3 separate regions of the Homo sapiens genome follow, and regions 1 and 2 are each linked to region 3. Evidence: fine-mapped expression QTL. A gene starts in region 3. Each other region holds a variant in brackets. All regions are shown on one strand. Distances are from middle to middle. Region 1 overlaps KLHL6 (kelch like family member 6). Region 2 overlaps YEATS2 (YEATS domain containing 2). Region 3 holds the start of YEATS2-AS1 (YEATS2 antisense RNA 1).

What was found. PIP is the estimated chance that this variant, and not a neighbour inherited with it, causes the effect. A credible set is the group of variants that fine-mapping cannot tell apart.
Region 1: its variant is the best candidate, but not a certain one, in a credible set for the expression of YEATS2-AS1 in thyroid (GTEx, PIP 0.88).
Region 2: its variant is the best candidate, but not a certain one, in a credible set for the expression of YEATS2-AS1 in pituitary (GTEx, PIP 0.75).

Annotation. Positions count from the first base shown.
Region 1 is chr3:183,535,498-183,545,814 of GRCh38, reverse strand. The region is part of intron 1 of KLHL6 (kelch like family member 6); the gene reads left to right. Among named protein-coding and RNA genes, the nearest start is that of KLHL6-AS1, 8.1 kb to the left of the region's middle. RefSeq lists an enhancer at 4,727-4,836. The variant A/G (reference allele first, on the strand shown) is at 5,454.
Region 2 is chr3:183,745,990-183,756,306 of GRCh38, reverse strand. YEATS2 (YEATS domain containing 2) reads right to left here. Exons shown (of 31, transcript NM_018023.5): 9 at 8,591-8,635; 10 at 4,054-4,234; 11 at 1,942-2,181. Among named protein-coding and RNA genes, the nearest start is that of YEATS2, 53 kb to the right of the region's middle. The variant C/T (reference allele first, on the strand shown) is at 5,304.
Region 3 is chr3:183,805,039-183,815,355 of GRCh38, reverse strand. It overlaps YEATS2-AS1 (YEATS2 antisense RNA 1), which reads left to right and starts at 4,905. Exons shown (of 3, transcript NR_046727.1): 1 at 4,905-5,337; 2 at 6,504-6,626; 3 at 7,244-8,292. It overlaps YEATS2 (YEATS domain containing 2), which reads right to left. Exons shown (of 31, transcript NM_018023.5): 28 at 8,264-8,490; 29 at 7,252-7,326; 30 at 6,186-6,259; 31 at 2,732-4,881. The coding sequence ends at 4,773. RefSeq lists an enhancer at 4,523-5,722.

The DNA.
Region 1 (10,317 bases), 270 kb after region 3:
AGTTCCAAAATCCAAAATGCCTCAGAATATTATGGATTGAACCGGTCGCTCATGTGACCACCTGCATACAGATGTGCCATGCATACAATGTGACTCTTGCAGTTCTTTTGTTTTTTTGCACTGGGAGTGGGGAGAGGGGTTCTGCACCAGGGCAGAAGTGCCATTAGGTCCTTTGATTTTTCAAGGAAGTGTCATCTCTGTCACCCCTACCCATGATGTCTAAACTGAAAACAGGCCTCTTCATAGAGAGATCCACAGCATGTGGATATTATTCCAATCAAGATTAGAAAATCTATTCTTCAATTTTAGATAATCTTCCATGCAGCTCCCAACTAAAACACAACAGAGAAATATTTTCATCATTCATAGCTCAAGTTGTGAGCTTTATCCCTGCATCAAACCCATGGATATGCAACTGTCCCTCCATGAAAATGTTTTTTCAGGACAAGGGTCTAACATGGTAAGCACCAAACAGTCCACGAAAAGAGCTGGCCACATGCAGAGCCTTTGTGTTTTTGGTAAAACTGCCATGAGCGCAACATCCATTTGCGCTGCCTCATATTCCTTTATTGGTGAGCATTTTTTGGTTTCGAGGGATAGGAAATCAAGTCAATCAGCTTAGGCAAAGAGAAAGGTATTTGGTCACATTATCAAATCATAGGAAGGGCTGGGATGCAGCAGAGCCCAGGGAGAAGAGGAACCAGGCCCTTTCGTGCAGCCTGCGTGCTCTTTCTCCACCCCTCACTTGGCTTCTCTCAGGTTGGGTTTCTCAGGCTGACTTCTGCCACACGGTTGGGAGTTTGCCTATTGGCTGCTATGAGACTCCTAGCCTTGGCTCTGGAGGGAAAATGAGGGACTTTCTCTACCTGTGGCTTGAAAAACCCCTGGGAAAGACTCTGATTGGCTCAGCCCCATTCAGTTACCCAATCCTAGGCCAATCACTGTGCCAGGGAGGTGGGGCACAATGATCAGCCCAGCCTAGGTTAGGAGTCCACCCTTGGCTAAAGAGCTGTGCGTGTGTGTGTGTGTGTGTGTGTGTGTGTGTGTGTGTGTGTGTGTGTGTGTTTGAGAGACAGAGAGAGAGACAGAAGATAGAAAGGCGGAGAGGCCTGTAATGACGTGAGAGCTCCCGCCTGAATCACATGATTTGAGTGGGGCCTGGATGGGGAGAAGAGCATTTCCCGATATGGAGAGATGCTGGACAAAAGGAAAAATAAAGTCCGCTAAAGAGGGGTAACAAACACTGCTTTACTTTCTTATTAGCCAATTTGTCGCACTTTTGCCTTTGCTGTGACTGTCAGGAAGCTCTGTGGATTAACTTTCCTGAGCCTTGGTTTCAGAGACATATTCTCCTTCGACTTTAATTTCTTAATTCTTGTGTTCTTATTTTTATTGTTACTGTTTTGTGTTTTATGATCCCTCTGCTTCTTTTGTAAAAGCCTTCTTAAATGCTTTTGGTGAGGCCATCTCCACGTAAAGATAAGTCTCCTTTGCTGTGAAAAAGTATCACTTAGGCAACCTACATGTCCTCTGCTAGCTGTAAAGGTTAGCATTCTTTTACTGTATTTAACTTCTATGGAAAACGTTAAGGCCACCATAATTACAAGAGTGCTGATACTGCTATGGCTTTTTTTTTTTTTTTTTTTTTTTTGAGACTGAGTTTCGCTCTTGTCGCCCAGGCTGGAGTGCGATGGCCTGATCTCAGCTCACGGCAAACTCTACCTCCCAGGTTCAAGCGATTCTTCTGCCTCAGCCGCCCGAGTAGCTGGGACTACAGGCGTGTGCCACTATGCCCGGCTAATTTTGTATTTTTAGTAGAGATGGGGTTTCACCATGTTGGCCAGGCTGGTCTTGAACTCCTGATCTCAGGTGATCCGCCTGCCTCGGCCTCCCAAAGTGCTGGGATTACAGGCGTGAGCCACCACACCCGGCCTGGTGCTACGGCTTTAAAACACAATCAAACCAAAACTAACAGGTTGCATCATAGCCCTTTCTGAAGAGATGCTCTGGGATCTACAATAAATAATAGACACTCAGCAGGTTTGCATATAATGATTCAGGTCCAGGGTCCAGTAAGACCTTATTGGATTGAAAAGATCATGTGTCTTGTAGAGTAAGCTCAGGTTTATGGAGGGCTGAGTATCAAGGGCCTTTTGGTGTTGGGGGAATTTTGGGAGAGGTGGAGGCCCAGTGGATAACTCCTGGAAGGTGGAATTTTATTGTATTATTGTGTATAGCGAACGCAACACAAAAAAATAGGACAGAAGAGAACAGAGATTAGGGAAAGTTAGGAAAGTGTCAGGTGACTAGCAGTGTCTTTAAAACTCAGGATAGCAGGCTGGGTTGGCAGACGATGTCTGTCTCATTAGCAGGTGGGCCTGGAAATGGAGGGGGAGAGAATTCTTAGTAACTGCTATGAAAATCCTCACTCCTCCCATGCTCCTCCAGTGTACCACCGATGATTAGCAGGCCTTCAGTTAAGGAGCACTGCATAGTATTATCTCTCTCTCTCTCTTTTTTTTTTTTTTGAAATGGAGTTTCGCTCTGTCGCCCAGGCTGGAGTGCAGTGGTGCGATCTCAGCTCACTGCAACCTCCATCTTCTAGGTTCAAGCTATTCTCCTGCCTCAGCCTCCAGAGTAGCTGGGATTACAGGTCAACACAACAAGATAGTTTTTGTATTATTAGTAGAGATGGGGTTTCGCCATGTTGGCCAGGCTGGTCTTGAACTCCTGACCTCAGGTGATCTGCCCGCCTCAGCCTCCCAAAGTGCTGGGATTACAGGCTTGAGCCACCTCACCCAGCCAGTATTATCTCTCTTAATGTGCAAATACCTGGAGGGGAAGGAATGCAAAATGTTAAACTTTCAGAACTACAGTGCTGAGTGGACTTAGTGAATTTCCATCCATCTGTCCATCCATCCATCCATCCATCCATCCATCCATCCATCCATCCATCCATGTATCCATCCATTTGACACAAATTTATTAAGTGCCTACTCTGTGGCAGGCACAGAGTTTACAAAGATGAATAAATTATGGTTCCTGCTTGACCTGGAAATCATCATCTAGTTAGGACAGAGAGATAAGTAAATTGATGTTTACTGTACAGGGTGATAAGTGCTATGATGCAGCTCTGCACAGGGGTTATGGTGGAGCTGGGGACAGGGGCTGTGAGAGGTTTGCTACATGGGAGCTATAGGAGCTTACAGAAGGGCATTAAATCAGACGGAAGAAAGAGCAGTCTGAGAAGGCTTCCTGGCAGAGGTGATATCTGAACGGAGTTTTGAAGGATGAGTAGGCATTGGCCAGAAGGGGCCAGAGGGGAGAAAGGAGAAGAGAGGAGCATTCCAGGCAAAGAGAAGCACATCCGGGAAGGTGCCACGCAGTGTAACCACAGGTAGAAGAGTAGGTTGAAATAAAGGACATGCACAGGCCAATAAGGCTGAGAGACAGGCATGGTCAGACCGGGAAAGGTTTTGTTGGGTGAAGCTGTGGAGTTTGAAACATGACTTACAGATAGTGGGAAGCCGTGGAAGAGTCTTTAAGTAGGAAAGAGATGTGATCCAAGATCTCCCTTAAAATAATCCTTTGCACTGTGGGTATGGAGGGTCCCATCAATCTAGGCAGACCCTTAGGTAAGTTGCAAGAAATTTCAGTGAGAGGAGATGAGGGTTGGAATTAAGGTATAGGCAGTGTGGTTGGGGAGAAGGCCTCCAGCAACATTCACATCCTCTCTGAGGGCCTGCAGGGCAGCCGGACCACAGAGAGCATGAGGGAGAGGCAGCGCTGCCCAGCAGGGAAGGGTAGGGGGAAGTGAGGTTAGGAGGGCTGGAACACAAAGCAAACTGACTCCACTCTTTGCTGAGGACCAGCTCTGAGCCTCAAGATTGGAAAGAGAAAGAGAAAGTGGTCTGACCTTATCAACCCTTCTCCTGCCCAGGCTATCCCGTTTTAGAGCAAAGCTCATAAACAAAACATCTCAAGTTCTGGACTTGCAATTCTTGAACACCTTGGAGATAGAGCCACAGCTATTATTAAAATATGTTCCCCTCTCTTATCCACATCTCTGATAGAGACCACTGCTGGCTTTTAGGGTGCCTTCCTTTGGTTTTTTTGTTTGTTTGTTTTTGTTGTTTTGTGTTTTTTAGAGGCTTGCTATGTTGCCCAGGCTGGACTTGAACTCGTGGCCCCAAGTGAGCCTCCTGCCTTGGCCTCCCAAGTAGCTGGGACTACAAGCATGTGCCACCACACTCAGCCCCTTCCTCTGAATGTAAATAAGTTACCTGGGAGGACCAGTTAGAAATGGGGGCCCCTTTCTGGGGGTTGCAATCCACGTTAGTGCACAAGGCTTGGCAGGTGTAGGGGGCGCTGGATTTTAGCTCAAGTCAAGCCTGGCCTGTGCACTCCTGCGTGTAGCCCAACTGTGGCAGCTCCTCCTTCACGTCTAGATTCATAACTGCTCCCCATCCCCAGCTGGAGGAGCTCCTGTCTTCTGTCCCTTTCCCTCTGGATTCTGTATCATGAAAGCCCAAGGGACAGGCCTGGCAGTCCAGATTCCTCTGTGGCAGCTGGCGGAGGGAGCAGCCTAGAACGCACATAGGATCATCTTTGCCTGTCACAAGGGATACCTTTTATGACTGGAGGAGCCTTAGCATTTGAATACCTTGGGGTAAAGACTGGGGCCAGTGCCAGCTTGCAAGTTTCTAAGTGGTTAGAACCAGGGAAGGCTCAGAAAAAATCTTTAAGCAGAGGCTGATCCCTAACTTCTGGACAATGACATGGTCACAGGGAAGCCACAGAGTCCTGGAGGTGGGAGTGGAAAGTGGAAAAAGAGGGTCATGTGGAGCCTCCGGGCAATAGCCTGGTCGGGATGTGGTGGTGGACGGCGAGCGCAAATGCGGACCCTGCTCCAGGCCCAGAGGGGAAGTGAGAATCTGAGCCGACCTCGTTGGTTTGTGAGGGAAGTGGGGTTTTGTTAGGGGAAGCCAGGTTTCATCTTCAGGAAGGAGGTGGAAGATGTGTAAAAACAAAAGCAGACAAAGGTAAAGAATAATCACCATGTTTTGTAAGTTAAACTCTCAGGTAGGAGAGCTTAGGGTAATCATCAATGGGGCCGGGTGTGGTGGCGTGTGCCTGCAGTCTCAGCTACTTCGGAGGCTGAGGTGGGAGGATTGCTTGAGGCCAGGAGATTGAGGCCAGCCTGGGCAACAGAGAGATCTTGTCTCAAAACAAACCAACAAGCAAACAAACAAACAAAAACGGGCCTGGAGTTCCAATTCAGAGAATCGCTGGGATTTCTTTTGTCCAATTGTATCACTCCGCCCTGCGAGTGACAGACATTCAGCTCAAACTGGTCCAAGCATAAAGGGGAAAAAATAATTTATTTGCTCATGGAATTAAAAAAAGTCTGGGGTAATGGTTTCAGGTATAGTTGGGTCCTTGTGCCCAAAGTA[A/G]TGTTACCATGACTCAGTTTCTCTCTCCTTCTTAGTCCCGCTTTCCTCTGTGTGGGTTTCTCTCTCAGGGAATGTATTCACACATGAGGACAAGCAGGTAGCCAGCATCTCCAAACTTTCATGTCCACCAGCTCAGCAATTCTAGTGGGAAGAGACAGCTTCTCTTTCTCAGTAATTCCAAAGAAAGTTCTGGAATTGGCTCCAATTGAATTGGCTTCTTCCTATTCCCATCCCTGAACCAATCATTGTGGCTTGGGCTTGGACGGTGGGGTGTTTCCCAACGGAAGATCTGAGTACTCCTGCTAAAAGAGACAGGAGTAAGTTGGGCAGACAAAACAAAAACTGTCCATTGTATCTTTGTGACTGTATCGTCACTAAAGCCTGACCACAAGTATATGTTGTAATTGATGTTCTTTCTTGTCTGATCTTGCAGACAGAACAAGTCCTTCTTTCTGTCATAAACTTGGATGGCAGAATTTCATGGCAAGCTGAGGCATCAGCAATGGTCTGGTGGGACTTGGAGGGATTCTGCTTCCCTAGGAACATGGCCAGAGTTTTCTTCTCCACAGGGGCCGTGGGCAGTGTCCTTGAGGAGTGGTGAACTAGGGCAAGAAGCTTGGCAGAAGGGAGTTGTTTTTTTGTTTTTTTTTTTTGAGATGGAGTCTCACACTGTCACCCAGGCTGGAGTGCAGTAGTGCGACCTTGTCTCACTGCAACCTCTGCCTCCCGGGTTCAAGCAATTCTCCTGCCTCAGCCTCCCGAGAAGCTGAGATTACAGGCACCCGCCACCACACCGAGCTAATTTTTTGTATTTTTAGTAGAAATGGGGTTTCACTGTGTTGGCCAGGCTGGTCTTGAACTCCTGACCTCGAGATCTGCCAGCCTCGGCATCCCAAAGTGCTGGGATTATAGGCATGGGCCACCGTGCCTGGCCCACAGAAGGGAGTTATTCTGAGGCCTGCTGATGCTTAGAGTCAGATCGGGGCAGCTGTAGGCTTCCAGCTCCTCTGTCAGTTTGGAGCAAAGCTGGCAAACGGAATGGGATTGCCACCTGATTCGGGAGGCAGCCATAGGCCTCATGGAATTCTAGGAAGGCTGTGTCTTAGAAGATGAAAGGAAGGATCCATAGTGAGGGAGGACTTTCCGAAACATATCTTCCCTAGCACTATGGCCAATTGTTTCCATGACCTTGATCTTCATTCAGTCTCCTTCTCAGGAGGAAGTAGGGGTGACCTCTTTCTAGGGCAGAGGTTCTCAAAGTTTGCTTTGCAAAGGAATTATGAGTCGGAGCCAGGGACACCTAATTAAATACATACCTCCAGCCCTACTGCTAGAGATTTGGCTTTAGTAAGTCTAAGGTAGGTGGGGTACAGGATTCTGTATTCTGAATAAGCAACCCAAGGTTCTGATGCAGCTGGTTCAGGGAACACATTTTGAGATCCACCTCTTGAGGCTGGAGTATCTGAGGCCAAGGATGTAAGCAGGACTCCAGTATTGAGACAGGATCCATATGATAAAACTTAGGGGACAGCTTGAGCTCAGAAACAGGGCAGAGCTGAATGTTTAAGTGCTTCCCTTGGTTAGTATTGGCTCAGGTTTTGGTGCCTTGAACTAAGAAGTGCTGGGGACCATAGAGAGAGATGCCATGTCATGCTAGGTCACACTTGCATCTGCTGACTCCCTGCTTTCTTTGCAATGGAACCCCCTTTGATTGACTTCATTGTGTTTATATCCAATAATCCTTTCTTAACAATAGTGTTCATTGTGTAGTACATGCTGACTAGTTTAAAAAACTTTTAAACTGATTGTATACATATGGACATTGTATTCTTAAGTAGAATTTAACTCATTTTGCAACTGATGTTAAAGCCACCGCCACACAGAATATCTCAGTGAAACAGGGGAGTTCGTTCCTGGTATAAACGGGGAATGGTGAAGAAATAAGAGGAAGGACAGAACAGGGGGCAGACAGGTGGAGCCGGTGTAGGAGTGAGATAGTGGGAGTGATAGGTGTGGGTATTTGTTTATAGGGTTAGAATTAGGGTTACAGGAGGCAGGGAGTTCAGAGGTGTGGAGTTCTAGGGAAGGGGTCAGCTATAATGGAGTCGGGCTGGGTGAAATATTCTGAGTTGGTGAAGTTTAGGAACTACAGGAGCTTGTAGAGCTCATTGAAGTAGTGCAGGTACGTTGAATGTTCGAGTGTCCTCTTCAAGCTCTAGGCCCTGGACTCGGGAGTGTGATAGGAGTTCCCTAGTGGCGGTGGAGGGCCTCATCCTCCAGATATATTTGATAATTCTTGGAGGTACAGATTCCTGTCAAAAGCAAGTGCAAAGGGACTAGGAAGGACAAGTTGGTTGATTCATTCATTCACTCACTTTCCCTAGGGACCGTCCCTACTTGGTGGTGGCACTGCTCTGGCCCCTAGATACAGTGCTGAGCATGGCACACCCTCACTCAGCTGGCATTCTAGTGGGGTGACAATAATTAACAAATAGATAGGTAATCTAATTTCAGGATGTGCAGAGCTATGAAGAAAAATAAAGGAAGCGAAGAGGTGAGGGAGTGGCGATTTTAGATTAGGGGGAGTGTCGGGGAGAGCCTCTCTGAGAAGGCGATGTTTGGCAGAGACCTGAGGTGAGGAAGCCTGGTGGAGAATGGAGAGGCGTGTGGCCAGGCAGTGTTTGTGGCATGGCCTGACTTCATGCTGGGAGATTCTTGGGCCTGTGGATATTTTCATGACTGTTGTGGGAGACAAGCTTGCTGGGTCAGGCTCTATTTTGGGGTGGGCACTGACTCACCGCCCAAGTGTTGGGCAACTGGTATGCTGCTGTGAGATTGTTTCTGCTGTAAAATGAGGATCTTCCTAGCTACCTCTGTTTTACAACAATCTCATGAGAATTGGTCAGTGTCTTTCTAGAAAGTGTTTTTATTACACAATATCTTGCATGTATGCCACAGGATAAGTTGTCAGCAACCAACTCAGCTGTGTTCTCAGAGAGCAAAGTTTGGGCTGGTCCATTGAGCGCTGACACTGAGTTGATCCCCCGCAAAAGGCCTTGAACTCCTGCTGATTTTCTTGGTTTTCGTGCACTGCTGAGCTCCTGATTCAGAGCCTGAAGCCCTAGGTTCTGATTCCTACTCTATTGCTGACAACCCATGGGGACCAAGCTTTGTCTGAGTGTGTCCATGGATCTCCCAGAGGAGCAGCAGGAGGCCTGGGAGTATAGTCTATGAGGAATATGCAGATTTCCCCTTAGTTTCATCTTACCCATGTTCAGCATGGTGGCCATGGCCAGGGTAGTGTATTTAAGTGGCAGAAAATTCATGAAAATATTTCAAAGGGAGCAGAGAAATGCTGGGCCTTGGGGAGTCAAAGCTGGTTAAAAAGACCCCTGGAGAGAAGGACACTGTCTTGAGGGCACTTTCTTTCTCTCCCACGAACTGAGCTGAGATGTTTAGGCCGATTCGTGCACAGCGCTGGCCCTATGCTTGCTCTGGATGCATGGTCGACAGCAATGCAGCAAGTCAGACACGCAGTTACCTGATACGCACCCGGCCAAATGCTGAAGAGATAAGGGTTGTGAGTCAGTGTGGTGCTTGGTCCACTTACCCCTAAGTGTCTCCTACCAACCTTCCAAGATTCCTCTGATTTGGTCCAAAATACTTTCCCTGATTGAGTGCTGACGAGGTGCCAGGTATCGTGCTAACGCCTTGGTGTACTTCATCTTGCTTATTCTTCTGTGCAGCTCACTGAGGTGGGGACTATTATACCATTTTACAGATGAGGAAGCTGAGGTTCACTCACTTGCACTAAGTCACACAATGAGTGAGCATCAGAGGTCAGACTAGACACCAGTCCCTCCTCTGCCTGCCAACAGCCAGGTGGCTGCTCTTTTTCCCCTGCCCTCCCCAGGCTCCCGGAAGTCCCTTGGCTTGTGCACATGCAAACTCACACATACACAAAGCCAGATGTGCTGGAGAATTTACCTACTCCTGGATGGCCTGTAACCAAAGACAGTCAGTGTGGTCAGAGAGTATCACGGCCCTTGCCTCCTGGTGGGACAATTCAGAAGTGTCTTTTCCAGAGGTCCCTGCAGGATCAGGCTGAAGCCACTTTTTGCATGACTTTTGTCTTGCTGGGCTTCCTCCCCCCCTTGTCTTGCCCCCCTGTTCCCTTACGTCACTAGCAGAGGGGGTCTGCTTGCAGGGAATCCAGATGCCCGGTCAGACATGGGCTGAGCTGGGGCAGCATGTTATTAAGTGACTGTGATTCCAAACAAGAATTTGGGGCCAGGCACAGTGGCTGACACCTGTAATCCCAGCACTTTGGGAGCCCGAGGGGGGCAGATCATGAGGTCAGGAGATCGAGACCATCCTGGCTAACGTGGTGAAACCCCATCTCTACTAAAAATACAAAAATTAGCCATGCGTGGTGGCGGGCGCCTGTAGCCCTAGCTACTCAGGAGGCTGAGGCAGGAGAATGGCATGAACCCGGGAGGCAGAGCTTGCAGTGAGCAGAGATTGTGCCACTGCACTCCAGCCTGGGCGACAGAGCGAGACTCGTCTCAAAAAGAATTCGGAAGCCGTGGCTAGCAGTGACAGCCCAATTAAGAGTCCAGATGACCCTAGAGAGCCCAATAATATGTCACATGGGAAACACATTGACTTCATTTAGGAGCTCCTTGGAGTGCAAAGCATTAACTTAAACCATTGGAACATCCCTCCTTTAGACTTGATTATACAGATTCAACCAAATTAACCTCTCACTAATCTTCAAGTCACAGTCCGGGTGAAATAACATTTCTAAATGTCATGTTGGTGGGTCTCTAGAGATGTGTTGCCTCAGTTATATGAAGCTTATTTG
Region 2 (10,317 bases), 59 kb after region 3:
CATCAGTATCATCGAGGAAATTGTAAGAAACAGATTTTATGGTCCCATCCTTGACCTACTAAACATAAATCTCACTTCAACAAGATCTCCTGGTATGCACCTTATAGTTCAGAAAGCAGTGCTTTACACAGCAGTGCAAAACTGCTGAACCTTTTTTTGTAACTGCTGAATCTTGATATGATAAATCTTTTAACACCATAGGCAGGCTTTTATAGTACTGGTTATACTCGAAGACACTAAAATTAGAGACCGGGCATGAGACACCAGGTGCAGTGGCTCGTGCCTGTAATCCCAGCACTTTGGGAGGCCGAGGCAGGCGGATCACCTGAGGTTGTGAGTTCGAGACCAGCCTGACCAACATGGAGAAACCCTGTCTCTACTAAAAATACAAAATTAGCTGGGTGTGGTGGCGCATGCCTGTAATCCCAGCTCCTCGAGAGGCTGAGGCAGGAGAATCGCTTGAACCCGGGTGGCGGAGTGAGCCGAGATCGTGCCATTGCACTCCAGCCTGGGCAACAAGAGCAAAACTCTGTCTCAAAAAAAAAAAAAAAAAAAAAAAAAAAAAGAAAGGAAGGAAGAAAATCAGTAAGTAAACAGCTAGATTTAAGAACCTGGTGTCTTGTTTTGAATAGGAAAATATGAAATTCACCTACCCAGAATAAAAGTCTCTGTCAATACTATGTCACAGCCGTAACCCAGAAAGATTCGTGTTCCCGCAAAATACTCTCAAAAGTTACTGACAGTTAAACATCCTCTACTGTCTTTTATTGATCAAACGTCATCCATGAATTTCTTTAAACTTCAAATCAATTTATATGTTCAGCCTATTCCACCTCTGAAGTAGCAAGTTCCAAAATTTTTCTACCTGGTAGGTAAAATTGCCTACCAATGACAGGGGACGGTGGCTCACGCCTGTAACCGGAGCACTTTGGGAGGCCAAGGTAGGTGGATCACCTGAGGTCAGGAGTTCAAGACCAGCCTGGCCAATATGGTGAAACTCCGTCTCTACTAAAAATACAAAATTAGCTGGGAGTGGTGACACGTGCCTGCAGTCCCAGCTACTTGGGAGGCTGAGCCAGGAGAATCACTTGAACCCGAGAGAGGTGGAGGCTGCAGTGAGCTGAGATCGCGCCATTGCACTCCAGCGTAGGTGACAAGAGTGAAACTCCATCTCAAAAAAAAAAAATTGCCTACCAATTAGAAGCTATTTATCTCTCATCAAAGATTTGGATCCTATTTCTACTTAGCTGTCTACTTACAACACCAAACATTCTTTTTTTCCCCCCTTCATTTAACTATTATACAGAAGTCCTCATACTTCCTGGTTATTTCCAATTGCCTTTTAACAAACATGTTTTGTTCTAAGGTGGAACAGTCAAAACCATATATTCCTACTAAATTTTACCTAACATAAAATGAAACTATCACAAGGCAAAAGATAATCCAATCTTAGTGAACAAGACAACTCAGAACTACCTACTGACAATAGGAATGAATAATTTTCTAGTGTGGTTACAGACAGAATAAAGCATTTCAATTCCCAACCAACTCTAACCCTTAAAATTTAACTCCATGCCAAAGGCCTCTAAATTTTTTCTATCACTAGTCACTGTGGTTTCCATGTATATAATCCCCAAACACGATTCCTACACCTTAGTTTCAGCCATATATCCTAGCAAACATTTTACCTGTGCTGATTCTGGCAGACAAAAATTTGACCATTTGAGTTTCATTTATCTCCTCCATTCATTTCCGTATGAATGAGCTTTGTTTTTGCCTTGTGACAGCTTTGCCAATCAACAGTGATAAACTTCCTTTTGTTAAACATAACACTGCTTAGAAGAACTTAAGAGAAAAAAAGCCAAGTATTTTGTTTTGTTGTTCCAACAATTTTAACATCCAGTCAACTCCACATACACTGTCTTCAAAACATCTGCATACCTGACACAATCTTGCAGCTCATGGTGATGGGCTGGAAGGATTTTCCAGGTGACTCAGGATTAGGAACCTGACTTTGTGGAACAATTTTGCAGCTTGATGCTATTGGCTGGAAAGCTGAATTGCCATGGGAACAAAAGGTAACTTTCTGGGATGTAGTCATTTTGGTGGGTGTTCTTTCCAATGAAGATGGCAAAGCATAAAACGGAGTGTGTCGTTCAGCTTCAGTGCTAGCTGGGAATCCTGCTTGAGATGAAAGAGGCAAACGGCAAGTCATCAATCGCTTTGAAATAAAACCTTACCGTTGTGGAAAAAGAATAAAAATGCATTATTTCAACACCATTTTAAACCATGTACTGGTAGCAAAATAAATACAATCAATCATCCCTTCATATTTTTGGTGAAAAATATATATGCTTAGAATAATGTTTAAAGTGCTTTTTTAAAAAAACTTGAAAACATTATTAACTATAAACCATGTATAACATAAAAAGAACAAAAGTTCTTATGTTCCTCCATTTTTTAATATATAAACTGAAAAACTGTTTAGAGAAGAAAAAATCTTAGAAAGCATTCACTAAATCTAATGATATCCTCCTATCTTATTTATTTACTTATTTTTGAGACATTATTTCACTTGTCACCCAGGCTAGAGTGCAGTGGTGTGATCTCAGCTCACTGCTACCTCCACCTCCCGGGTTCAAGCAATTCTTGTGCCTCAGCCTCCGGAATAGCTGGGATTACAGGTATGCACCACCATCCCTGGCTAATTTTTGTATTTTTAGTAGAGACGGGGTTTTGCCATGTTGGCCAGGCTGGTCTTGAACTCCTGACCTCAGGTGATCCGATGGTTTCAGCCTCCCAAAAGGCTGGGAATTACAGGCATGAGCCACCGTGCCCGGCCCCTCTTGTATCTTATTAAATGCCCATAAAAAAGATGCAATTGAAATCTAAAGAGGAATAAAGTTGAGATTTTATAAAAGAACTATAATACTAACCACATTAAAATATAGGCTTAGAAATAAAACATTTAAGATCAATTTTATATCTTTTATGCTTATATATGGGAACATTAAAATATGTATTTATACACATATATTTGTTAAATTTAAAAATGGCATGGTCAAAATACATTGTTGGTGATGAATCTTTTCTTAAGTAAAACCAGGTATTTAATATCCAAGTTTCTTGCTCGCACAATCAGAAGCTGAACCATAAAGTCTTCCTGTAATACATTATAAGGAATTATCAAGTGATAAAAATCTGTTTTAGGCCAGGCGTGGTGGGTCATGCCTGTAATCCCAGCACTTTGGGAGGCCAAGGTGGGTGGATCACCTGAGGTCATGAGTTCGAGACCAGCCTGGCCAACATGGTGAAAACCCATCTCTACTAAAAATACAAAAATTAGCCGAGAGCGGTGGTGGACGCCTGTAATCCTAGCTAACAGGGAGGCTGAGGCAGGAGAATTGCTTGAACCCAGGAGGTGGAGGTTGCAGTGAGGCGAGATCATGCCACTGCACTCCAGCCTGGGCAACAGAGCAAGACTCCATCTCAAAATAAAATAAAATAAAAATAAATTTAAAAATCTTATGTTTTTTAGCTATTTTTACATTTTATAATATGTCAGTAAAACTTCATGGAAATTTTTTTTTTTTTTTTTGAGATGGAGTCTCGCTCTGTTGTCCAGGCTGGAGTGCAGTGGTACCATCTCAGCTCACTGCAAGCTCCACCTCCCGGGTTCGAGCCATTCTCCTGCCTCAGCCTCCCGAGTAGCTGGGACTACAGGCACCCACCATCACACCCAGCTAAATTTTTGTATTTTTAGTAGAGACGGGGTTTCACCGTGTTAGTCAGGATGGTCTTAATCTCCTGACCTCATGATCCACCCGCCTTGGCCTCCCAAAGTGCTGGGATTACAGGTGTGAACCACAGCTCCCGGCCGGAAAAATATTTTTGACAAGAGTGGAAATTTGGCTTTCATAACAGAACTGTGTAGTAGAGGCAGCATGTCCACTTATAGCAAAGTTATTTTCCATATACTATAGGTCTCTGAAAGCAGCAAATGGGAAAGGAATGCCTCAGAACAACGCTATGCAAGGAAAACTGCTGTATTACCTTTCTCCACAGAGGTATCGGGTACTGGCTCATGTGACTGCTTTATTGGTGAAGAAGCTTTCACTGGGGCTGGAATGGTCAAAGGCAAAGATGGAGGGGCATCAGAGATGTCAGACTCCGAGGACTGAGGATAGATACAGTCTTCTCCGAGAGAATGGCGATGGAGTTCAACATCCACTACCTAGACAATTGGGCAACAATCAGGCTCATGAGTCCATCATCAATGTCACAGAAAGCTCAAGTCCCGTCCAAGAATGTAATCTCCGGGATGTGAGAGATAACTTCTAATCACACTTCAAAGGCAATTTCAATCTGAAGAACTAAAGGATTTATTCTAGAAGGTAATCTAATCTGGCTTAACAGACACATACCTCAGTGAAAATCTAATCTGGTTTAACATACAAATCTCAGTGAAATTATTCACAAAATTGGGACCTCTTGATTTTGCTGTTGCTACTCCTTACAACGCTATTCCTCCAAATCTTTGCATGGCTGCCTTTCTCACCAGCAGGTCTCAATGAAGTAGCACCTTCTCAGAGAGACCATGCCTAACCACCCAAGAATAAGCTACTTCCTTATCCCCCAGCTACTCTTATCTTCACAGCACTTATTTGTAACTGAAGTAATTTTATTTGCTTTTGTGTTTACTGTCTACCCTCCCCATTTTCAATGCCACTAAGAATTTGACTCTGAAGGAAGAAGCTACCGTGTTCATTTCTGTATTCCCAGCACCTGGACCAGCGCTCAATAAGTACCTTCTGATATAATACAGCAGATTTCTCTAGACAGAGTAAGATTTAATTAGTGAACTCTGATTAAATGGCTATTGCTGATTATTATATGATGAATACAAAAAAAGGGAGAGAAGGTGAAGAACAAAGTTGGAGGTCTCAGACTCCTGATTTCAAAATTTATTACAAAGCCATAGTAATCAACAGTATGCTGCTGGCATAAAGACAGACATACAGACCAATGGAACAGAATAAATCCTCACATATATGGTCAAATGATCTTTGACAAGGGTCCCAAGACCATTCAGTGGGGGAAAAGACAGTATTTTCAGCAAATGGTGCCAGGGAAACTGGATATCCATATGCCAAAGAATGCAATCGGACCCTTACCTTACACTATATACCAAAATTAACTCAGGATCAAAGAACGAAACATAAAAGCTAAAACAATAAAACTCCTAGAAGAAAATGTAAGGGAAAAGCTTCATGACACTGAATTTGGTAATGGTTTCTTGGACA[C/T]GACACCAAAAGCACAGGCAACAAAATAAAAAATAGACAAACGGGACATCAAACTTAAAAACTTCTGTGCATCAAAGGACACAATCAACAGAGTGAAAAGGCAAAAATATAACACGGAATGGAAGTAAATATTTGCAAATCATCTATCTGGTAAGGGGTTACTATCCAGAATATATGAATAACTCCTGTCACTTAGCAACAACAAAAACCAAACCACCTAATTTAAAAATGGGCAAAGACATTTTCTGAATGTCTCTGAATAGACATTTCTCCAAAGAAGATAAACACATGGTCACCAAACACATGAAGGGATCCTCAACATCACTAATGATTAGAGAAACACAGATCAAAACCACAAGATATCACATCACAAACAACAGAATAACTACTATAAATTAAAATACAAAAAAAATTAACAAATGCTGGTGAAGACGTGGAGAAACTGGAATACGTGTGCACTGTTGGTGGGAATGTAAAATGGTGCGGCTACCACGAAAAAATATAGCAGTGGTTCCTCTAAAAATAGAATTACCATAGGATCCAGCCAATTCCATTTCTGGGTATATACCCAAAAGAACTGAAAGCAAGGATTTGAATAGATACCTGTACACCTACGTTCATAGCAGCACTATTAACAACAGCCAAAAGCTGGAAGCAACGCAAGTGTCCATCAGCAGGTGAACGGATAAACAAAATGTGGTATATACATACAATGCAGTATTATTCAGCCTAAAACAGGAAGAGGGGCGGGGCACAATGGCTCATGCCTATAATCCCAACACTTTGGGGGGCCAAGGCAGGCGGACAGCTTGAGCCCAGGAGTTGAAGACAAGCCTGGACAACATAGTGAGACCCTGTCTCTACAAAAAATAAACAAGTAGGCCGGGCGCGGTGGCTCATGCCTATAATCCCAGCACTTTGGGAGGCCGAGGCAGGCAGATCATGAGGTCAGGAGATCAAGACCATCCTGGCTAACACAGTGAAACCCCGTCTCTACTAAAAATACAAAAAAAAAAAAATTAGCCGGGCGTGGTGGCAGGTGCCTGTAGTCCCAGCTACTCAGGAGGCTGAGGCAGGAGAATGGCGTGAACCCGGGAGGTGGAGCTTGCAGTGAGCCGAGATCGAGCCACTGCACTCCAACCTGGGCAACAGAGCGAGACTCCATCTCAAAAAATAAATAAATAAATAAACGAGTAAGTAAATAAATTAGCTGGTCATGGTGGCACACGCCCACAGTCCCAGCTACCTGACAGGCTAAGGACAGATTACTTGAGCCCAGGAGGTCAAAGCTGCAGTGAGCCGTGATTGCACTCCAGGCTGGGTGAGAGAGAGCAAGACTCTTTCTCAAAAATAAATAAATAAAAATAAATTTTTTTACAAAGGAAGGAAATTCTGACATACGCTACAACATGGATGAAATCTGAGGACATTATGCAAAGCGAAATAAGGCAATCCCAAAGAGACACATATGTTATGATTCCACTTATATGAGGTACCCTAGAGTAGTCAAATTCACACAGACAGAAAGTAGAGCAGCAGTTGCCAGTGCTGGGGGGGCGGGAGGAGTGGGTGGTCATTTTTTAATGGGTACAGAGTTTCAGCTCTGCAAGACGAAAACAGTTCTAAAGATGGACTAAGGTCATGGCTGCATAATAATGTGAATATACTTAATGCCACTAGACTGTACACTGAAAAATGGGTAAGACGGTAAATTTTGTGTTACGTGTTTTTTAAGCACAATTTTTAAAAAATATATGAACCGGCCGGGCGCCATGGCTCACGCCTGTAATCCCAGCACTTTGGGAGGCCGAGATGGGCGGATCACAAGGTCAGGATATCGAGACCATCCTGGTCTAACTCGGTGAAACCCCATCTCTACTAAAAATACAAAAAATTAGCCGGGCGTGGTGGCGGGTGCCTGTGGTCCCAGCTACTTGGGAGGCTGAAGCAGGAGAATGGCGTGAACCCGGGAGGCGGAGCTTGCAGTGAGTGGAGATCACGCCACCGCACTCCAGACTGGGCGACAGAGTGAGACTCTGTCTCAAGAAAATATATATACATTTTGAAAATATATATATATACACACACATATATATATGAACCAAGGCTGGGCGCAGTGACTCATGCCTGTAATCCCAGTGCTTTTGGATGCTGAGGTGGGAGGACTGCTTGAAGCCAAGAATTCGAGACCAGCCTGTGAACATAGTAAGACACTGTCTCTATAAAAAATGTAAAAATTAGCTGGGCTTGCTAGTGCAGGTGTACAGTCCTAGCTACTTGGGAGGCTGAGGTGGGAGAATGGCTGGAGTCTAGCAATTCAAGGTTGCAGTGAGCCATGATGTTACTGTACTCCAGCCTGGCTGACAGAGTAAGACCCTGTCTCAATTAAAAAAAGAGAAGAGAAAAAGAAGAAAAGAGAAGAGAAAAGGAGAAAGCCTGGTGTGGTGGCTCACGCCTGTAATCCCAGCACTTTGGGAGGCCAAAGCGGGTGGATCACCTGAGGTCAGGCAGTTCGAGAGCAGTCAGCAGTTCGAGAGCAGCCTGACCAACATAGTGAAACCCCGTCTCTACTATGAATACAAAAATTAGCTGGGTGTGGTGGCGCGTGCCTGTAGTCACAGCTACTTGGGAGGCTGAGGCAGGAGAATCGCTTGAACCCAGGAGGAGGTTGCAGTGAGCCAAGATTGCTCCACTGCACTCCAGCCTGGGCAACAGAGCGTCACTCCCTCTCAAAAAAAAAAAAAAAGGAGGGGAAGGGGAGGGGACAAGGGGAAGGGGAAAGGGAAGGGAGAAGGAAGGGAAGAGGAGGGAGGGGAGACAAGGGGAGAGGAGCCACAAGTTTCCTGGTAAGCCTGTGGAACTGTGAGTCTATTAAACCTCTTCATAGATTACCCAGTCTTCGGTAGTTATTTATAATAGTGTGAGAATGGACTAACACAGAAAGGCAAACTTTAAAAAAAAAAACTAACACTAATTTTTTCCCTAATTAAAAATGAAGATCGGCCAGGTGCAGTGGCGCACACCTGTGAAACCCTGTCTCTACTAAAAATATAAAAATTAGCCAGGCATGGTGGTGCGTTCCTGTAATCCCAGCTACTCGGGAGGCTGAGGTAGGAGAATCACTTGATCCTGGGAGGAAGAGGTTGCAGTGAGCCGAGATCATGCCACTGCACTCCAGCCTGGGTGACAGAGCGAAGACCCCGTCTCAAAACAAACAAACAAACAAAAAATGAAGATCAATTTTCATCCTACTCATTCCCAGATAATACTGTAGGAAAAAAACCTACCGTCTCTGCTCCAAGAGTCTGCAAGCCAGTATAAGTTCTATCCAGCTATGGAAAGACAAAAGGGAGAGTGTTAAATTTCACTGCACTTACTTACATATTATCATAGGATACAATCTTTATCTACAGCTCTTTTGCAAGTCTTCATACCATAGGATCTACTTTTTCATAATGTAAAATATAAATTCATCACTTCAATAAAAAATTGAGTAAAATCAATAAAAACCTCAGACATATAGTTACTATATTTTTAATATAAATTATAATTTTAAAAAACCTATTCTAAGGACAATGTAAAAATGGAGGAAGTTTTACACAAAAAGATGTTTACTGCAGCATTATCTATAACCAAACTAAAAACAACATAAAAATCCAGAATAAAGGAATGTGTAAGTAAACCATGGACCATCAATCTCTGAAATATCATGCAGCCACATAGATGAGGTTTGCAAAGACTGTGTACAGATATTTTAAATGACAGGCTATACATATTTTAAATGCATACATTCTTGGACACAATTATATACTCAGAGTATATTTACTAAGCACTTAAAAAAAAGAATGAAAACATAGGCAGTAGAGGCTATGCTAATGACTTCAAATATACTGGCATCATGATTTGTTTTTTGAGAGAGGAACACAAACTGAGGGTATGTTAATAATATAAACAAGAGTTTACAATTACACAGAAAAAGGTTAAGTTCTTATTTGTAAATTTATATTCCACCACTAAAAAAAGAACTTGTGATAACAATATAAACATGCAATAAGATTAACAGGGAAAAGTATTAAATTGGGTAGAAAAAAAAAAGAGAGGGAAAAAATGAAGCCAGGGTAGGTTAGTAAATACAAGGTTTTAAAGGCTTATGAGAGGTAGGTGTCACGTCTGGCTGAGTTTCTTAGCAGCCAACATAGAGAGGACAACTCAGTCAGTTATGAGAGTTAGTGTTCACAAGATAAAAAGCAATACAGGGTGGATTAATAGTGGTTCCATGGAAGAAATCTGGAGTTTTAATATTTAAACCTTAGCTAACAGTATGACTGCTAAAAAAAAAAAAAAAAGGTAATTTTAGGTTACATCCATTTTCACAGTCTCCAGAGCATAGAAATAATAGTCTCTCTGTAATCCGCACGGGTGTATCTTTCATTGTTGGGACCAAATTTCAAGAGGGACATTGGATAGGACAGAACTAGTATCAAAACAAGAAGAGGAACTGGAAAACAAAGCATACAAGAAATGTAACAGGAACAGGTTTTGCCTGGAGTAGAAATGATTTCAGGAGACATGAAGGCTATCATTAAACATTTTTAGCGTTCTTATAAAACAAAGCCTTATTCTGTATTATTTCAAAAATCAACAGCCTGAGGCCAGGCTTGGTGGCTCACTTCTGTAGTCCCAGAACTTTGGGAGACTAAGGCAGGCTGATTGCTTGAGTCCAGGAGTTTAATACCAGCCTGGACAACATGGCAAAAGCCTGTCTCTACAAAAATTAGCCAGGTGTGGTGGCATGTTCCCGTAGTCTCAGCTACTCAGGAGGCTGACGCAGGAGGATCTCTTGAGCCCAGGAGGTTGAGGTTGCAGTGAGCCATGATCGCCCCACTGCACACCAGCCTGGGTGAAAAAGGGAGATCCTATCTACAAAAAACAAACGAACGAACAAACAAAAAAACCAGCCTGGGCAACATGGCGAGACCTCAACTCTACAAAAATAATTAAACAATTAGCCAGG
Region 3 (10,317 bases):
TGGTCAGCTCTGCTGCAGCTCAGCCAGGACCAACCGGGCCTGCCCCTTCCTGGCAGTGCTGGTGGGGCAGCCGCAGTGGAGGCCTCACCACACCAGACAGGCCTGACTGCAAGACAAACAAACAGATGGTCAAGAGCCTCTGCAATGCACAGCAGACAGCTTTTCACAGACACCAACTCCAGTGTTGCTCTGAGGGTGCATCATCATCGAGGCAGGGTCTTGCTTTGTCACCCAGTGGTGTGAACACTGCTCACTGCATCCTCAACCTCCTGGGCTCAAGTGATCCTCCCGCCTCAGCCTCTCGAGTAGTTGGGACCACAGGGGCATGCCACCATGCCTGGCTTTTTTTTTTTTGGCTGTCACCCAGGCTGGAGTGCAGTGGTGCAATCTCGGCTCACTGCAACCTCTGCCTCCCACGTTCAAGCGATATTCTCCCACCTCAGCCTCCCGAGTAGCTGGGATTACAGGCGCCCACCACCATGCCCAGCTAATTTTTGTAGAGACGGGGCGTCATGTTGGCTGGGCTGGTCTCGAACTCCTGACCTCAGATGATCCTCCCATCTCAGCCTCCCAAAGTGCTGGGATTACAGGCGTTGAGCTATCACACCCGGCCATTTTTTATTTATTTTTGTACATTTTGTAGAAACAGGGTCTCCCTATGGTTGCCCAGGCTGGTCCTGAACTCCTGGGCTCAAGCAATCCTCCTGCCTCAGCCTCCACAAAGCACTGGGATTGCAGGTGTAAGCCACTGCACCCAGCCTGGCCTCTTTATGAGGAGATGTGGGTTATGCTGAAACTCCTTCCCACTCACTTAGGTCTAAATAATCAGGCCTAACATGTTCAGCAAGTGACCCAAGAAGCAACTGAGACAGACAAGTCTCAACCATGTGGTCCCAACTCATAGCTATCTATCAATCATCTCTCACACACATACATAATACGCATATAAGACTGAAAGAAAGGCACTGAGAGATGTTAGCAGTGATTATCTTTCAGAGGAGGAATTATGAGTAGTTTTTCAAACACATTTTTTATGCTTGCTAAAGTTTCTGTAAACATTTTTATAATAATTCTGTAAAGAAAAAGTTCTTAAAAATAAAAAGCAAGCCAGGCATGGTGGCTCATGTCTGTAATCCCAGCACTTTGGAAGGCCAAGGCAGGTGGATCACTTGAGGTCAGGAGTTTGAGACCAGCCTGGTCAACATGGTGAAACCCTATCTCTACTAAAAATACAAAAATTAGCCAGACGTGCTCACTTGAACCCAGGAGGCGGAGGTTGCAGTGAGCTGAGATCGTGCCACTGCACTCCAACCTGGGCGAGAGAGCAGACTCTTTTTTTTTTTTTTTTTTTTGAGACAATGGAGTCTTGTTCTTGTCACCCAGGCTGGATGGAGTGCAATGGCACGATCTCGGCTCACTGCAACCTCCGCCTCCCAGGTTCAAGCGATTCTCCTGCCTCAGCCTCCTGAGTAGCTAGGATTACAGGCACCTGCTACCACGCCTGGCTAATTTTTATATTTTTAGTATAGACGGGGTTTCACTATGTTGGCCACGATGGTCTCGATCTCCTGACTTTGTGATCTGCCTGCCTCGGCCTCCCAAAGTGCTGGGATTACAGGCATGAGCCACCGTGCCCGGCCCAGACTCTGTCTCTAAATAAATAAAAAGCAGTTCAACATGTTAGCAAATTCCAGACAAAAGAAAATGTTAACTTTTTAATTATTTCACAACCCAAGCTGCCACTGCGGGAGCTGCCTCAAGCAGCCACGGGCTGCACTATGACGCTCTGCAGGTGGAAAGTCCTAAAGATCCTTCCGCAAGTCGAGGGGGTTTGCAGGCATTTAGAACAAGGTCTCGCCTCTCTGTGCTCCATGGTACAGAACTCCAGGACTCAGGCCACGTTCCCAAAAGCAGCTTTTGAAAAAAGCTAGGCCCTGCAGCCCACCCCAGACAAATGGAAGAACCTCCCCTTTGAACAGGGTCAAGATGATGATGAAGCCCCAAAGCCAGTTCTGTTGGCCCCGTTCACACAGGACTCCTTCCATCAATAACTTGGAGTCCAAGTCACGTAAGGTACTGCCTGTGACACTGATCTGAGCCTGCTCTCGCTCCTGCCAAAACCTTGGCTGAGACAATGAACATTTATGAAGGCAAGCCTAGGCACACCCCTCTCAGCCATCAGACTCTTTGACTCTCCATTATGACTCTCAGCAAAGTCTGGTCCCCAGAAAGTTACATACTTGGACTGTATCATAATGCCTTTGAAGAACCAAAGCTTTCAAAATCTTTCAGCTCTTACGTTTCTGGATTTTTCACTATTTCTGAGCCATATGCTAGCAGATGGTCACAGCATAAGGACCGTGTCACAGGAGTGACTTGTTTCAGTCCTCAACACAGTCCAATTTTACCCTGCCAGATAACCCGGTATGTTTCTTTGTTAGACACGAGGAGCTGATTCTCTCTCTGCCTTGGCTTTAAGGAAGCTCTGAGCTCATTTATGCAGTTTTCTTTTGCCCCAAGCTGTCAGGAATAATTATGTCCATTTCCAAATTTTTTTTAGACTTTTATGTAACTGTAATCCTTTATCTTATACGGTTGCAACATTTTTTTTTTTTTGGCAAGAAGTAGAGGAATTAATTTAAACATATCAATAAGACTCTACACCATCACCTCATCCCAGTGCAGGGAGAACCCTGCCTGAGTACCATGCTTCAAACTCAGAAACACCCACCACAAATACCAAAAGATTTATTGTAGACAATTTTGTTACACAATTATACACATTATGATACACGTTTGAAACATTAACACACGTGGAGACTGCTAAATCATTTAATATTTCTTTTGCAAAAAGATAATTTCTTTAGGCTGTGATACCTGCAATAACCAATCTGTTCTCATTTGGATCAGATCTTTCTCCCTCTGTCCTGGAGATCTCACAGTTCACTTTGCTGAAGCAATCTATCCACTTCCCTATCGACCTTGCTTATAGCAGTTCAGGTATAGACTATTTGAGCCTTATATACTAAACTGTTAAGCCAGTGCGTGCCCTATGCCCTGCTGAGAATAGATTCCTTCTGTACTTGCAGCCCTCAGATGCTGAATTGATCAATCAATTTTTGAGACGGGGTCTCCTCTGTCACCAGGGCTGGAGTGCAGTGGTATGATCTTGGCACACTGCAACCTCCGCCTCCTGGGTTCAAGTGATTCTTCCTGCCTCAGCCTCCCGAGTAGCTGGAATTACAGGCACACACCACCATGCCCAGCTAATTTTCTGTATTTTTAGTAGAGACGGGGTTTCACCATGTTGGTCGGGCTGGTCTCGAACTCCCAACCTCAGGTGACCCACCCACCTCGACCTCCCAGAGTGCTGGGATTACAGGCGTGAGCCACCATGCCCGGCCCAGATGCTCAATTTAAAAGGCAGAGTTTATTCAGTCACTCCCCGCCTTACCTTCCTGACTCAAACATCTACAGGACCCATGAAAACAGGAATTACGTTGCTTGGGTAAGTTTCTCTGACTCTGACTCACAGGTTTCCGATTTTCCTGGAGCAGAATAGAACAGATTTCTGACTGGGCATGCATTCTTTGTTCTGCCTTCCACACAGGCTGTGTTAGGAAGTCTGAGATGGGGCGCCTCCAATAGACCCGGGCACCTGGCAGCGCCACCTTCTCCTGCCTGCCACTCCCTCCCATCGAGGGGGCCTCTGCTTGTGGACACAGACTAATCTCACTGCTTCTGGGCACTGGCATCCTTATTTCTGGGCATGGGCAGTTACTTCTCCAACTTTAAGGCACTCACTGGTATTTCTTTTAAATACTTTTCTTCTTGGGAAAAACTCCTTAACAGAGAAGAGTATATACAATCCACGGATAGGACAGACGACCCCAGAAGAGCCTGCCGGGCGCCGCTCCCCACTGGCCACTCAGCATGGGGTCAGCAGCAGAAGCTCCTGCAGGCCATGCAGATGGCGTGGAACCTGCGATCTGCTTCGCACACATGTGTAACGCTGCTACACTTCTGCCAAGTGTCTGGGACTGGTGCACACAGTCTATTCCTAGCATAGTGAGTTTTCTTGGTTATAATCAAACCTCTTCCTGACTCCTGTTGGGACCTCTCCGTCCCTTGCCACTGCTTTGACAATGGTTCTAGTAATGCTCTCGTGCTCAAAAAAGGAATTCTGCTCAGTCTGCCGTCTCTCAGGCCTTCATGGTTCTTGGCTCTAGGTATGGCCTCTTCCTATAGCTGACTCACTTGGGCTCAGAGTACAGCCCCTCCACACCAAGGCCAGGCATGGGAGAGAACCACCTGCTGAAGGCTGAAGCCCAATCTCTCTTCAGGGTAACTGCTGGAGCTACTGGTAACTCCAGCCCACAAAATGGGTGAAATCTCTAGCCTGCCACTCATTTTCTACCTCCTGGGGAGGCGGGCCCAAGGAGCCCCCTTAAGCACACCCAGGGAGAAGGGCCTGAGGCACACGGCCTGGCCCGCTCTCGTGGGGCCTTTACAAAGACTGCAGAAACGCTGGCCGACAAAGCACGGATCCACTGACAGCCTCACTCCACACTCAGGAAACAAACTCCTGTCCTAGGAGGATTTCATCTGGAGTGCAGCGTGCTGGTGACACGTGGGAACAGGCAGCGGCAAAGGTTGGGTAGCCATGACATGCCGAGTCACACTGGAAACCACCTCCTTCCCGAGCAGCAGGGTCCTCAGTTACAGCTTCGCTGTGCCTTCAAAGCCTGCTTCTCCAGGGCACCTCACTCCGCTCACTGGTCCTCATTCAATATTCCCATGTGTTTGTTTGTGAGGAAGTCCAGAAAAGGAATGTTGCAAATGGCCTGGTGAATATTACTCACTGTAATTTCTTTGGGAATCCTGGTCCAAAAAACAAAGGGTGTTACCAGGTGAAATTCTCTCACGTATATCTCATCATTTATTCACTTAACTCATCACAGGGACCATCCCAGGCAGAGGCCCCGTGGAGAGGGCTCCTGAGCCACAGACATAGCTTAGGGCCACTCTGGGGTGAGGACTGCCTTCCTGTCATAGGCATGAGAAGGATGTCAACAAGTTGGTTGAATAATTAGGAAAAAAGATTCTGAGAACTGAGAAAAGAGAAAGAAAACAAAGCGGATGGCAGAACGGAATGACACATTTGTGAGTGAGTCTCAGCAGACCGAAAGCTGAGTCAAAGCACCACAAAACTCTGGGACCTTATTTCCCATCTCCTAGAAAGACGGGAGACGGAGCCACGCCAGGCCAGGCGTGATGTTAATCGTTCCATCAAAAGCACCTAAGTCACTCTACCCCTCCAGGACAGGGAGCACAGAGGTAAGCAGGGGCCACAGGAGGCCCTGGCTCACTTGTGGGTCCAAGCAGGACAGTGGGCAGCAGGACCGGAACTCTTGGTTCCCCTTCCTTTTCTCTAAAGACGCCTATGTTGTCTGATATATTCCTGTGAAGTTTCATCTACTATTCCTCTGATTTAGGCCCTTCATGTCCTCAGGCACTTTGCTACAATTTTATAAATCTGTGACAGCCTTTAGCATAATGCAATAAAATAATATTTGTTTCCTCCGAAAGAAAAGCAGATGTGGCCTATCTACCATCCTTTCAGGGCCTAGGAACAGACTGAAACTCAGTGTCTTAATCAAAGACAACGAGTCAGCAAAGAGCAGTGGCGAGCCCAGGGGCCTCAGAGCCAATGAGACCTGAGTCGGAAGTCCAGGTCTACACTGTATTTGCTGGGTAAGCTGGGTAAAATTACCTTTCAAAGCCCGGTTTCCTGATTTTTAAAAAGAGAATAATAGTTCTGCAATGAAAAACAAATTAGGTAATATATGCAACGCTTGGCCCTCGTGTCTGACATGTAATGGACACTGTTATCTTTAATTGCAAAGCTAATATTTATTCAACCCTGTAATAAAACAGAGTCCTAGGTGTCTGTGAAGTAATGAGGAGGATATAAACCTCTGAGCAAAGCTGAGTGAGCTTTCACAACCATGAGGTTCTCTAAAAATGACAAAGCAGACCCTTGAGCTCATCTGGCTCTAAGAGTGTCCTAAGCACTCACTCCATCTCCTACTGGATTGATGTAAGTATAAAACACCTTCATGGGCAATTCAACTGTTAGGAAAGAGGTGTAAGCCTCACACCACAGACTGCAGAGATAGTAATACCTGTTGTGAGAAGCTGTCTGGTATCCAACTGCCAAAGCCTGTCTCAGGATATCATTCACCAGCTGTTCTGTAGCCTACAATGGAAGATGCTGTTATTCTTCAAATGGCCATCTGCTTGCTGGCAAGAAGGGACACATTTAACCCCATCCCTTACCCCAAATGTTTGAAACCACTGCAACTAGGGATTAAAAAGTCCTTAAGAAAAAATTAAAGGCCTCAATAATAGACCATAATGATAAAGGCCATGATTCTGAGAAATTATGAATTGGAGTGATTTTCATTAATCAGACATTATTCTATTTATTTATTTATTTTGAGATGGAGTCTCACTCTCGCGCCCAGGCTGGAGCGCAGTGGCGCGATCTTGGCTCAGTGCAACCTCCGCCTCCCGGGTTCAAGCGATTCTCCTGCCTCAGCCTCCCAAGTAGCTGGGATTACCAGGTGAGCGCCACCAAGCCCAGCTAATTTTTTATTTTTAGTAGAGATGGGGTTTCACCATGTTGGCCAGGCTGGTCTCCAACTCCTGATTGCAAATGATCCACCCGCCTCGGCCTCCCAAAGTGCTGAGATTACAGGCATGAGCCACCGCGCCCAGCCCTAGACATTGTATTTAAGGAAAGCAGTTGTTACGGAGGTATCCCTATTCTTGGAGAGGATCCACGAGGAAAGGAACTGCTGAGCTAGGATCAGGCTGGGGAAGGAGGCTGCGGCATTTTCGTCCCCTTGCCAGGGTCAGGACAGTTGGGGCTGTTTGCTGTTGTGACGTGTACAGAAAACCATAGGCTTTGTCTCTGCCACCTCCTAAAGCAACGAGCACACTGACCACCACCCCCAGAATACGTCTTAGGAGGCACCTGAAACCACATGACTCAGAGGAAACATAACTTAGTCCATTTAAAAATCAGAAGGAAAAAAAACAAAAAAACAAAAAGAGAGAACTTAAGCCCAAATAAGACGAGACATTTTAAAGCCTGTTATCTTTGTTCCTTTTCTGTCCTTGCCCCTTACTCCAAACCGCCTGGGATGCAACCATCCTTCCTGGCTGGCGGCCCCTGCAGGCACCCACCTTCAGGATCATGTCCTCCACCACGGACGCATACACGTTCCTGTGGAGTGCCACGGGCTGCAGGGTGATCCCAATCTGGAAAAGCAGAAGAAAGCCGTTTGTTCGTATCGCTGCTTTAGAAACAGCCTCTCTCCAAACAAGCATACCTCCCTGACATGCAAAGCGATGCCTGGTTGGAAGGAGGACTCTGCAAACATATTGGGCAAAATTCACGGGAAAGGAACACGGAATATAACATCTAGAAGAATGTTATCTTGTTTTTCCACATTTCTGGCTGATATTTAAAATATGACTATAATCCTATTAAAATCTCTCAAATCTCCTTCGTGGGAGAACATGGTTGGGATCTGCCTGGGTTCTGATACGCAATCAACACTTTGAAAGGTCTGGAATCAGACTCCAACGTCCTGTTTGCACTTGGAAACTGCATCTTGCCCATTCTTCATGGCATCCAATGAAAGCACACTGTCTTTCACCTTGGGCCCTGAGCAACTGGCAGATGCTGAAGAGCTGTTAGGCTCCAGCAGGGTGGATAAATACCTCTCTCCTGTATAGTAAGGCAGGTGCACGCCATCTGCACCACAGGCGGGGCACTCAGGAGCTATCAACACATCAGGGGAGGATTACGCGCTGACGTGCAACTCAGAAAGAGTACGACGTGCCTCATGAGGGAAAGGTGCTTCTACTGAGGCAGATGAGAAAAACAAGATGAAGAGTAATCAACCATTTCTATCTAGCCAGCTTTGCTTCACGTCTGCGTTCAACAAGCAATGTTTTCACATGTAATTAGCATTTCTGCCCAAGGGCTCTGATGTGGGACGGTGGGAGCCCTGAGAGCACACCTGGGTCAACCAGGCAGAAGGAAGTCAAGCATCTACGGCACCAGAAGAGTCTGGGTCTGAGTCTGTGTCTGTGAGGCTGAACACCTGGGTCTGGGTCTGTGAAGCTGAACGTCTGAACATCTAGCTCTGAGCTGGTCTGCTGCATGAACTATTAACACCACAACCCCTACCTTCTGTGTGACATCCCCAATAAATTCAGACCCTGGGGTTGGTGGCAGGTAGAACTTGACTTCCTCTTGTTTCTCTTCCTGCTCCTTCTTGATGTTTATCTTCACTGGCTCGGAGAGGCTGAGGATGTCCACCTCCTCCTCATTCTCGGGTTCCCTTTTCTGGAACTGTTGCAGGTCCTCCAGTTTGCGGCAGAGGTTGTCAGCAGAGGAGAATGATGATGGGCACTCTAAATGACAGGCAAGCAGTGTTACAACAGCTGTGGGGCCAACGGAAGAGGACTTTCCGTCTCCAAGAGACCCATGGTCTGAGGAAGGGGGATAAGCATCAGGGGAGCTGACCTTCTTTCCAGTTCTAACATTCTATGGATCTATAATGATGAGAACTAGTAATTCACGAGGGAGAAAGGCATAAACACAGGCATCTTGTGTGTGATCTATGTAAGGTAACTGCCATCTAAGATGAAAGAGTAGGAATTCTCACTTCTGCCACCAAAAACCAGGTCATCCCCCTCCCTCTGAGTATTAAGGACTGACCTGATTTTTCCTCATCTCAAATCTGGAAAATTTAGAAATGCAGAGTGAAGAAAATAAAAAGAATCACCCCTATTCTCACTGCTCAGAGAGCAGGACTGTTAACATTTCAATGTATATTATGGGTCCAGTCTCTAATAAGGTGATTTATACAAAACCTAATCAGGAGTGTGAGGACCTCAAGGCCAGATCTAGGGCACTAGTGCCCTTCCACTTTCTGGATGAGTGTGTGAGGTCCACACCAGGTACAAGATTTAAGGGCACCCAGCTCCTGGCCTTTTGTTTTACTGACTGGGCTCTAACAAGCTCCAGCTGCTCCTCAAGTTATGATGGCTGGGGCTATATCCTGAAAAACCCATCGTAAGTTGAAAATATCATTTTTGACTTAGGATATTTTCAACTTACGATGGCCTTATCTGGACAAGGCCATCGTAAGTCAAGGTATGTGCTGATGCCTACAGCTTTCAGACCATTGTAAAGTCACAACATCAAATCACAGGTCAAACCATTGTAGGTTAGGGGCCGTTTGGAATCAGTCAGATTAAAAGGAAGCCTAGTATGTGCAAGTACTGTGCTTTCCACACAATGTCAGTGAAGCCCGGGGATCATTAACACGGTCTCTGCTCTCCGAGTAGCTTACACAGCGAAGTCAGACAAGCCCTCATGCTGTTGATATTAAGCGCTGCAGGAGATGAGAGAAAGGAGAGGCCATCCTGCATTAGGCTCTCAAGAAGCTTAATGGCAAAACTGGGACTTGCCCCCCCTTTTTTTTTTGGACAGGGTTTTGCGCTGTCACCCAAGCTGGAGAGGAGTGGCATGATTACAGCTCGCTGCAGCCTCAACTTCTTGGGCTCAAGCAATCCTCCCTCCTCAGCTTCCCGAATAGGTGGGACTACAGGCATGCACCACCATGCCCGGCTAATTTTTGCATTTTTTGTAGAGGCAAGGTTTCACCGTGTTGTCCAGGCTGGTCTTGAACTCTTGGGCTCAAACAATCCTCCTGCCTCAGCCTCCCAAAGTGGGAGGCCACTGAGCCCGGCCCTAAGTCTTAAAGTAACCCCACCTCTGTGCTCCAGGTTTCCTTGGACAGGAGGGGTGGAGCTTCTGTTTTTCTATATAAATGGGGCTGGGGGCAGAGAACAACTTTTCTTTTTATTTTATTGAGACAGGGCCTGGCTCTGTTGCCCAGGCTGGAGTGCAGTGGTGTGCTCATGGCTTACTGCAGCCTCAACCTCCCGGGCTCAAGTGATCCCTCTCACCTTAGTCACCCAAGTAGCTGGGACTACAGGCGAGCTACCACACCCGGGTAATTTTTGTAATTTTTGTAGCGACAAGGTCCTGCTATGTTGCCCTGGCTGGTCTCAAACTCCTAGGGGCTCAAGTGATCCTCCTGCCTTGACTCCCAAAGTGCTGGGATTACGGGCATGAGCCACTACGCCCGGCCCAACCCTTCTTATTCTTTGAGGTGAAACTCAAAATGCTTCTTCTGCCTATATACCTTTAATCCCTTGCTCCTACACCCC